Regions from separate parts of the Homo sapiens genome. Here region 2 is linked to region 1. The links come from fine-mapping of genetic effects on gene expression. A gene starts in region 1. The other region holds a variant in brackets. All regions are shown on one strand. Distances are between the middles of the regions.

Region 1 (5,374 bases):
AATAGTTACTATTTCATGAAAGTAGATATTTTTAGAATTTTTGAAATACCACAGTTGTTTTCCTGGATTATAAGGAAAGGCACATTACATTTAGTCTTCCTTTCGATATAAAACTCTTTGAAGAAATATGATTTTTAGAAATCAGCTACCCATTATAGCACAAAATCAGCCAAAGCAGAATTTTTAAAAATTGGCTTTTTTAGGATTCTTTTTCTCCCCCTCCCATCTTAGTCTTACCTTGAGGGAACAGTCATATGAGAAGGAACTTTGTCACATCTAAGCTGTGGTGTGTTCCCCATGTGTGTGTACAACACTGGTGACTCCAGGAACCATTTTCACCTATTACCAGTGTTCCCTGGGGACTCCTCTTAATGTTTCCAAATGGGAAGGACAGTTGATTTCCAACATGAGGTTTTTTGTTTTTTATCCAGAAATATTTTCAGCAAAACTTTCCAACTGAGTGGAGTCTGATTAAGGATTTATTTGAAAATGGTGGGATTCATTGGCCCATAGGTACATTGGAAAATGTATATCTCTCCAGCTGTACTGTAGTGCCCTGCAGGCTGTTTATATGTTCACAGTTACTTTTTTTTTTTTTTTTAAATAAAAGTCATTTAATGTAGAATACTTTTAATTTCACTTTCTGTATTTTAATTTTGTTGAAGGGCTGATTGGGATTTCCATGTTCTTATTAAAAATCTAACAAATCTGTTTGGAGTGGACTAAATTATTCGTGTACCAACCCTTCTAAAATCAACATCAGATTGGGAGTTGGGTTGGAGGTGGGGGATTCATTTCCAGGTCTTCATGACTGTGCTACACCCAGATATTTTTCTTTGCTTGTTGAGACTGTGCCATGTTAGAAAAAAGGAAAGTGCCAGGGTGAGGTCAGTATGGTTTGGGGAATTGGGGGTAAGGGGAAGGGGCCACATGAATTAGAGGGTAGAAAGAGAGACATGTTTCCCCATACTTTATGCTTTGTGAATGGAGTGGGAAAGTTGGGGTCCTCCCTTCCTGTGGCAGAGTCTGGGGGGAAGGGTCATGGTGTGTGGCCTCAGCAAAGTTGGACAGTCTGTGGTGGGATTCTTAAGCAGGCAGCCTGGCTGCCTACATGAAACGTGTGGCCATAGATCCACCTTAGAGATGGTGGGAGACACTCATGTGGGATTTATCAAGCAGTAATTAAAGTGTTTCATTGTGGGGTGATAACAGACTGCATTCCAATTAGGAGATGTTTTCTGGAGAGGAAGTTGTAAAGAATAGCAAGAGGGGTTATCAGAGGCTGCTTTTCTGGAACGTTTTGGGAAACATCTTCCAAAGTGTTTGAACCTGGAAATATAATTTACCAGGTTAGAAATAGACCATTGTGTTGTTCAGGGATACTGAGCTTGAATAAGACCATGACTCTTTGAAATACACAGTTCTGAATGTGTCCTTTCAGCCCAGATGGGCACAGGTTGATGCTGTGGTCACCCGAAGGATTACAACTCAACATAAAGGGTAGAGGAATGCAGAAGCTCTAAAATGGGACAGGAAAGGAGAGCAATAGGGCTGGGGGTGTTGGTGGATGGTTGGAGGTTGGTTGCTTTCCTGAAGATCAGGAGGCAGGCTAGCCTACATTCTGGATATAAATGTCTTTAGAATCAGGACATTCACTGCCACTAGTGCTTGCTGATGGGGGTGGAACTGGAGCCCCAGGACCCTCTCGCAGCCCCTCTGTTTGAAAAGAAGGTTGACCCTTTGTTGTCAGTAACCACATTGAGAGCATAAAGCTCTGTTCCGCTGCAAAGCTTAGGAGCTGACAACCTAAAAAAGCAGACCAGCAGCCCGGTGGCTCACACCAGTGATCCCAGCACTTTGGGAGGCTGAGGCGGGTGGATCGCTTGAGCTCAGGAGTTGGAGATCAGCCTGGGCAATATTGCAAAACCCCATCTTGGCAAAAAAAAACAAAAAACAAAAAAACAGGAATTAGCTGGTGGTGTTTTGGGCCTGTAGTCCCAGCTACTCGGGAGGCTGAGGCGGGAGGATCATTCAAGCCCAGGAGGTGTGCTGAGATTGTGCCACTGCACTCCAGCCTGAGCGACAGAGTGAGGACCTGTCTCAAAAAAACAAAACATCATCTGGTCAGGGGAGATCCTCTTTCAACGGGGTGAGAAGGAGTGGGGTGGACAGGTGCGGCTGTACCTGTGACTCAGGAGCTCAGGTGGATGTCTTCAGGGCCTGTAATGAGGAGAGTTTGCTAGTCAGCAGTTGGGGGATGTAACCTGTTTAAAGTAGGCTTCCTGGGGTCATCTTAGCAGCATGACTTGGTGGCTTTGTGACTCTCAACAGATTATTGAGCCTTAAGCTTCTCATTCCCTTATCTTCAAAATGAGGGCTTTTATAGCGCCTGCCTTATAGGGTGGTCAAGAGGATTCACTGGCAACGCAGTGAAGCTCTTAGCACAGGGGCTGGCACACAGTAAGCGCCTGGTGTGGGCAGGGCAGGAGGTGGGCAGGGGTCGATTTCAGGATGTAACCATGGAGACCTCCACGACAACAGCCTAGGGCTTGAAACCCAAGAAAGATGAACAAGCGATTCGAGGAAGGCAGGGCACTGAGGGTCGGAGGCGCATGCCCGGCCACAGCAGGTGCCGGGGCGGGGGCGCGCCGCCGCCGCCGCGGCGGCCTCCCGGCCTCCCCTTTAAGAGCCGCCACCGCCCACGGCCCGCCGCTGCGGCAGGGACCTCCCCTTTAACGGCGGCGCTGGGCGCTCCGCTGCCCCCGCGGCGGCTGCTGCAGCGGCTGCTGCTGCTACTGCGGCTCCTGCTGCCGCCGCCGCCGCCGCTCGGCCTCAGGCAGCTGCATCCTCGGCCGGGCCGGGTCCCCGCCCCGCGCCGCGCCCGGCCCCGCCATGGTGTCCTGGATCATCTCTCGCCTGGTGGTGTGAGTGCGGCGGCGGCGGGGGGTGATGCGGGCTGTGATGGAGGGCGGGGGTGTTAAAGCCCGGGTGGACTTCTCCGAAGCTTCGTGCAGCAGAGTCACCTAAAGGCGCTGCGTCCTTATTTGGGGCCCCCAGAGACATGGAGATGTGGCACCCAGGACTGGAGGGGGGAATATTAGGGGAGCGTGGCAGGCCTGGCTTCCCAGGGACCTCACCCACATTCTTTATTAATAACCTCTTTTATTTCTACCGTCCTTGCTCCTGCGCCCATCCTAGAGGCTGAGCAGCACGGCTTGATTTAAAAGGGGAGGCAGGCGCGTCCCCTCCCCCACCTAGCAGGTCTGGGCTGGAGGAGATCCTCAGACCCGGGCCCTGTCCCTCTGGGGGAGGTAACAGGGTGATGGAAGAGAGTGGAGCAAGGCAGGGCCTCATCATCATTCCGCAGCTCAGAGCCATCACCAGGCCCCTTGGTCTCTCCCTTCCACTCACTGTCAGGAGACTGGGGACGAGGGCATATGCCCTTAGGCCCCCTAGGGAGGAAGTCTGGGTATCGGGAAGCAGAAATGCTCGGAGGACAAAGTGTGAGAGGTAACTGGGAGAGGGGATGTGTGTGCTCAGCCTGGGATTGTGGACCCCGCTGGGGGAGGACGCTCCGTGGCCTTCATTCCAGGCTGCCAGCCACACTGTGGAGCTGTGTCTCTGGCACCTCCCCGGGCCCCAGGAGGGAACACACACCATTCCCCACGAGCCCAGACTTTGTCCTTGAGGATTCTGCTCCGCACTCCACTTGCACCAGCCGGTTTGGAAGTATCCCTCCTGTCCATGTGGAAACAGGCGACAGCCACACATTGTCAAGGGGCTGAGCCTGACAGGGGCTCCTCGTGGTTCTCGGAGCTATCCCCTGCCCTAATGAGGACACTGCCCCTCGGCCTCCACCGTTGGGGACTGACACCGGCAGCCCCACCCTGCTCCCTTCTTCCCATTCGGTACAGCCGGGCCGGCCAAGTGCTTCTGTCCTGGTTTACTCTAGACTCCTTCTCTTCCCCCACCCATCCCAGGGGGAATGGAGGGGCCTCACGCCTCCATGTGGCCTTCAGGGTGGCTGCTTCTCTCTTGCCTGGGCAAGCCCCAAAGGGCATCGGTCCTCTTCTTTCCCGGCCTGTGTCTTGTCTGCATTCTGTACTTGGATCACCAGCGGGGCCCTCCCCTGAGCCCTGTCCCTGTGGTGTTTACATGGGGGAATAAGCCTCTTTGCCTCTCTCAGGGCCTCCTGCCCCTGTGCCCTCTGTTCCCTAGGGCCCCAGGGCCACAGTGGTACCTCTGCCTGCCAGGTAGGGTGCCCTGTTAGGTGGTGTCAGGTTCCCTCGCAGAGCCTGGCTCTGAGGGAGGTGGAGGGTAAGGGCAGATGGGTGTGAATGGGCATGAGGTCAAGAAGGAAGACACCCTGTGGCAGTGACCTGACTCCCAGTCTCCATGACATATTTGTGTGTAACCAAGGATCATGGCGCAAGGGACTACATTGGACCCTCTGGCCTCTGGGCCTTTCCCTGCCTCCGGGGCTAGAGAAAAACTGAACAGTGGAGCGGGGAGGGGGCATCACCCTACCTGGCTGGGCATGTTCCATGCTGCTTTGACCTTAACCCCTGACCTGAGTTCATCAGTCCAGCGGGGAGTTCTGTCTCTCTTCCCATTACTTACCCAGGGGCTGATGCGGAGCTGGGAGGGAGAGGCCACTGCCCTTGGCTGAGAGGCCCAGTAACCATGCCTGCCTCCCTAGGCTCATCTTTGGCACCCTGTACCCAGCCTATTCTTCCTACAAGGCCGTGAAGACAAAAAACGTGAAGGAATATGTGAGTGGATGACCCTTCACCCCCTACCCAACCCACATGGCACAGAGAGGGGAGGGCACTGGGTCCTATTACAGATGGGGGTGACTTTGCACCAACACTGTCAGCCACTAACAAGACCCACCAGCAAAGGAGGGCCCTGGGTGTCCCACACAGCGCCTCCAACATGGCTGGCAGGCAGAAGTGGGGTCCTTGGTGTTCTCCCCAGCCCAGGCATGTTCAACAGGCAGAGCTGGGGTCCTGGGTGTCCCTGGCCCCTCAGCCCCGTGCCCCAGCCAGCGCTTCCCTCTGTCCCTCAGGTGAAATGGATGATGTACTGGATCGTCTTTGCCTTCTTCACCACGGCCGAGACGCTCACGGATATAGTGCTCTCCTGGTGAGGTCCAGCGTCCCCTCCTGTATCTCAGGGCCCAGGGCCTCTGCCTTTCTCTACCCAGCCAGCCAAACAAAAGACTGGGCCTGGGGGTGAAGCTCCTCCCATTCCTGACAATTTCATGGGGTCCTTGATATCTCCCCTCTCATGCCTAACTTGACCTGCAGAAGAACAGACATAGTAGTGCCAGGCGAGGGGGCTCACACCTGTAATCCCAGCACTTTGGGAGGTC
Region 2 (5,374 bases), 460 kb before region 1:
TTTCTTCCATCTCTCACTCCCAACCCCCTCTATGCAGTGTTCCCCTAACTACCCTGGGTTTTTTTTTTTCTTTCTGACATTTTTTAGTCTCTCCCTATCTAGTGAGTGATTCCTACTGACATGCTCAAATCTCCATCCTGTATCAAGAAAGCAGAAATGGGGGACGGGAGTGGGGAAGGGGGGAATATCTCTTCCACAACCAGACTGCTCAACTCTTCCTTTTTTTTTTTTTTTGAGACAGTCTTGCTCTGTTGCCCAGGCTGGAGTGCAGTGGCGCGATCTCCGCCTCCCGGGTTCATGCCATTCTGCCTCAGCCTCCCAAGTAGCTGGGACTACAGGCGCCTGCCACCACGCCTGGCTAATTTTTCGTATTTTTGTAGAGATGGGGTTTCACCATGTTAGCCAGGATGGTCTCCATCTCCTGACTTCGTGATCCACCCACCTCGGCCTCCCAAAGTGCTGGGATTACAGGCGTGAACCACCATGCCTGGCCTTCTCTTTCCTTTTAATTTCAATGCAAAACTTGTGCAAAAGGCATTCCACACACTGCAGCTTCTACCTACTCACCTGATATTCATTCTCAACCATGAAATCCTCTACCTACCAAAGCTCCTCTTTCTTTACCAATAATTTCTATCACTAAATGCAATAAATTTTCTTTAATTGGAATTTTTTGCTTAAATTATTTGATTATAAATCAGAGAAACTGTTGGAAACCTAAATATAAGAACATATGAAGAAAAGTAAAATCATCCATAACCTATCAGCCAGAAGGCCACTGTTGTTGCAGGAAGTCAGGGACCCCGAATGGAGGGACCAGCTGAAGCCATGGCAGAAGAACGTGGATTGTGAAGATTTCATGGACATTTATTAGTTCCCCAAATTAATACTTTTATAATTTCTTATGCCTGTCTTTACTGCTATCTTTGAACATAAATTGTGAAGATTTCATGGACGCTTATCACCTCCCCAATCAATACCCTTGTGATTTCCTATGCCTGTCTTTACTTTAATCTCTTAATCCCATCATTTTTGTAAACTGAGGAGGATGTATTTCGCCTCAGGACCCTGTGATGATTGTATTAACTGCACAAATTGTAGAGCAAGTGTGTTTGAACAATATGAAATCTGGGCACCTTGAAAAAAGAACAGGATAACAGCAATGTTCAGGGAACAAGAGAGATAACCTTAAACTCTGACTGCCGGTGAGCCAGGTGGAACAGTGCCATATTTCTCTTCTTTCAAAAGCAAATGGGAGAAATATCGCTGAATTCTTTTTCTCAGCAAGGAATACCCCTGAGAAAGAGAATGCACCCCTGAGGGTAGGTCTCTGAAATGGCCTCCTTGGGTGTGGCCATCTTCTATGGTCAAGACTGTAGGGATGAAATAAGCCCCAGTCTCCCATAGCGCTCCCAGGCTTATTAGGACGAGGAAATTCCCGCCTAATAAATTTTGGTCAGACCGGTTGCTCTCAAACCCTGTCTCCTGATAAGATGTTATCAATGACAACGTGTGCCTGAAACTTCATCAGCAATTTTAATTTCACCCCAGTCCTGTGGTCCTGTGATCTCGCCCTGCCTCCATTTGCCTTGTGATATTCTATTACCTTGTGAAGCATGTGATCTCTGTGACCCACACCCTATTCATACACTCCCTCTCCTTTTGAAAATCCCTAATAAAAACTTGCTGGTTTTACAGCTTGGGGGGCATCACAGAACCTACGAACATGTGATGTCTCCCCCGGATGCCCAGCTTTAAAATTTCTCTCTTTTGTACTCTGTCCCTTTATTTCTCAACCCAGCCAATGCTTAGGGAAAATAGAAAAGAACCTACATGACTATCGGGAGCAGGTTCCCTGATATCTCAAAGTGCTGGGATTACAGCTGGGATTACAGGCATGAACCACCATGCCTGGCCTTCTCTTTCCTTTTAATTTCAATGCAAAACTTGTGCAAAAGGCATTCCACACACTGCAGCTTCTACCTACTCACCTGATATTCATTCTCAACCATGAAATCCTCTACCTACCAAAGCTCCTCTTTCTTTACCAATAATTTCTATCACTAAATCCAATAAATTTTCTTTAATTATTTGATTATAAATCAGAGAAACTGTTGGAAACATAAATATAAGGACATATGAAGAAAAGTAAAATCATCCACAATCTATCAGACAGAAGGCCACTGTGAATATTCTGACTTGGCCTTTTGACTATGTGCCACACACACATGCAGTGCATGCACACAAAGAAATTGGGACTGCATTAGCTTTAGTAATCTACACTTGGTTTTGTATGTTTTGTTTTTTGTTTTTTGTTTTTTTTTCAAAATAACTTTACCTCACAACTATTACTTGGGCCTTTAAAATAATTTTAAATGACTCAACTATATCCTATGATATGGATATACTATGATTTATCTAATCATTTTCCATTTAGGACTTTTTGTGTTTCCCATTTTTTTTTCCGATGAAGAAACCCCCAGTAAGAATTCTAGTAGAAAAATCTTTGCATACACCTCTGATTTGTATGTATTTCCTTAGGAAAGAGTCCTAGATTTTGAAATTTCTGGATCAAAGGTTTAAGGTCTTTTGTTCTTACTGTTAATGTGTTTTCCAGGAAGTTTACAGCAATTTATACTTCCGATGTCTGTATAAGACCACTTACCTTAACCTACCCTCACCAGCATTAAATATATTGTTCCTGGGTATTCTTAAATTTTTTGTTCAACAGCAAAGGCAAAGAAAAAAAAAAAGCCATTTCATTAGACTTTTAACCACCCTAGCAAGCAAATAAAATTAAACTTACTCTTCTTATTTTTGTACCTTTGCCTCCCACCACCTTTTTTCCTCCTTTTACCTCTCTATTTTGACCAACTTTCAGACTCAGGAAAAAATCCCATCCTCTTTGACATTCCCAACTGCTATGGTCATGGCTGCTTTT[T/C]TTCCTCCAAAGAGCTAGAATACAGAGGTTCCCCAAGGGTTTCTTCAATCCCCGTTTATTCTATTCAAGTCACTGCTTTGGCAATGGCATTCACTCACAGACAAAATGAGCCTCCACCACCAGCCACAGCTCAAGACCTGAACATCTGCTTCATATAAACCACCTTGATATTCCAGTTCTGCAACACTGACCTCTTTTCCAATCTCTTAGTGTCTGTGTTTCTTACCCCAGTTTGCACCTAAATCTTAATCATTTTCACCTTTGGAATTTTCTCTATTTTTCCTTCCTTCCCTAGGGCTCACAGTTCAGACTTTTTTTTTTTTTTTTTGAGACAGGGTCTTACTCTTTCACCCAGGCTGGAGTGCAGTGGCATAATCTCAGCTCACTGCAACCTCCTCCTCCTGGGTTCAAGAGATTCTCCAGCCTCAGCCTCCCGAGTAGCTGGGATTACAAGCATGTGCCATCATGCCCCGCTAATTTTTGTATTTTTAGTAGAGATGCGTTTTCACCATGTTGGCCAGGCTGGTCTCGAACTCCTGACCTCAGGTGATCTGCCCACCTTGGCCTCCCAAAGTGCAAGGATTACAGGCATGAGCCACCATGCCCACCAGCTCAGATATTTTAAGTGCTCGCCAAATACAGTGCAAAAAGCCTACTGATTGTTGTTGTCCTTACCCCCAGTCTTTCCCACAAACTTTTTATGACTACTACAAAAAACCTTCTTCCTAAAATACAGATCTGGGTACATCATTCCCTCTGCTTCAAAGTTTTCTATATTTTTCTTCTACTGAGAAAATCTACAATTCTTAAGATAGTATTCCAGGCTCTACGTATGACCCAAATCTACCAATATTCCAGAATTATCTTCTACTATATATCCTCCCACAATACCCTGAGTTCTACAAGTAGCTCTGTTTCATTAACATTCAACATTACCCTGTAATCTTTACTTATACTATTCATTTTAGTTTCTTTCACAAATCTTGAACCAAATCCAGCCCTATAAAAAGCCAAGTTCAAAATCCCCCTCATTCCAAGACCTTCCATAACTACCCTGGCCAGAAGTTCTTTCCTCTCTTCTGCAAGACTATAGTGCCCTAATAGCACTAGTCATATTCTGTATTAGAAAGTATGTGCATGTACAACCTAGATTATCAAGTCATTGAAAACTTAAATCGACCAGGCACGGTGGCTCACGCCTATAATCCCAGCACTTTGGGAGGCCAAGGCGCGAGGATCACCTGAGGTCAGGAGTTTGAGACTAGCCTGATCAATAAGGAGAAATCCTGTCTCTACTAAAAAAAAAAAAAAAAAAAAAAAATTAGCCGGGCGTGGTGGCACATGCCTGTAATCCCAGGTACACAAGAGGCTGAGGCAGGAGAATCACTTGAACCTAGGAGACGGAGGTTGCACTGAGCCCACATCACACGACTGCACTCTAGCCGGGGCGACAAGAATGAAACTCCGTCTCAAGAAAAAAAAAAAAAAGAAAGAAAACTTAAATCAGGTATTTTTGCTTATACTGTCCAAGTAAACAGGTATTATTGTGTATTGCCCAACTGAACTAACTTATTCAAATAATAAGAGTATCACTGAACTTCTTAGCTGGGGTTGGGGGGAAGAAATGGTGACAGGTTTTTCAAGGCCAAGAACCCATCATTCATAAAGGTTTCCTAAAAACAATTTTAGAAAGAATTAGTTCCTGCTCTCTTTATAAAGTAATTGATACACTAATTTCTTTTTTTTTTTTTTTTTTTTGAGACAGGGTCTCACTCTGTCACCCAGGCTGCAGTGCAGTGGCACGATCTCAGCTCACTGCAACCTCCACCTCCCAGGCTCAAGCAATCCTCCCACCTAAGCCTCCCAAGTAGCTGGGACTACAGGCGTACGCCACCTAGCCTGGCTAATTTTTATTTTTGTAGAGACGGGGTTTCACCATGTTGCCCAGGCTGGCCTTGAACTCCTGGGCTCAAGCGATCCACCTGCCTCAGCCTCCCAAAGTGCTAGGATTACAGGCGTAAGCCACTGCGCCCAGCCTAATACACCAATTTCATTCAACAAATTATTTACCGAGTTGTTTACTAGCTTACTATGTGCCAGATGCTATTCTGGTCTTACATCAACAAATGCTTAATGAATACCTACTAAGTGTTCTAGATAATAGGGATGTAATAAAGAACAAAACAGACAAAAATTTCAGCCCTCATAAAGTTTTTTTTTTTTCTTCAAAGACAGGGTCTCACCGTGTCGCCCAGGCTGAACTGCAGTGGTGTGATCACCACGCACTGCAGCCTTACCTCCTGGGCTCAGGTGATCTTCCCACCTCAGCCTCCCAAGTAGCTGGGACCACAGGGGAGCACCACTACACCTGGCTATTTTTTTTTTTTTTTTTTTTTTTTTTTTTACCATTTTTGTACAGATGGGTTCTCCTCC

The links. PIP is the estimated chance that this variant, and not a neighbour inherited with it, causes the effect.
Region 2: its variant is the best candidate, but not a certain one, in a credible set for the expression of REEP2 in tibial artery (GTEx, PIP 0.58).

What each region holds. Positions count from the first base shown.
Region 1 is chr5:138,436,317-138,441,690 of GRCh38, forward strand. It overlaps REEP2 (receptor accessory protein 2), which reads left to right and starts at 2,741. Exons shown (of 8, transcript NM_001271803.2): 1 at 2,741-2,924; 2 at 4,700-4,772; 3 at 5,069-5,145. The coding sequence starts at 2,893. It overlaps KDM3B (lysine demethylase 3B), which reads left to right. Exons shown (of 24, transcript NM_016604.4): 24 at 1-711. RefSeq lists a silencer at 2,569-2,988 and an enhancer at 3,374-3,907.
Region 2 is chr5:137,975,762-137,981,135 of GRCh38, forward strand. The region is part of intron 10 of FAM13B (family with sequence similarity 13 member B); the gene reads right to left. Among named protein-coding and RNA genes, the nearest start is that of FAM13B-AS1, 54 kb to the right of the region's middle. The variant T/C (reference allele first, on the strand shown) is at 2,942.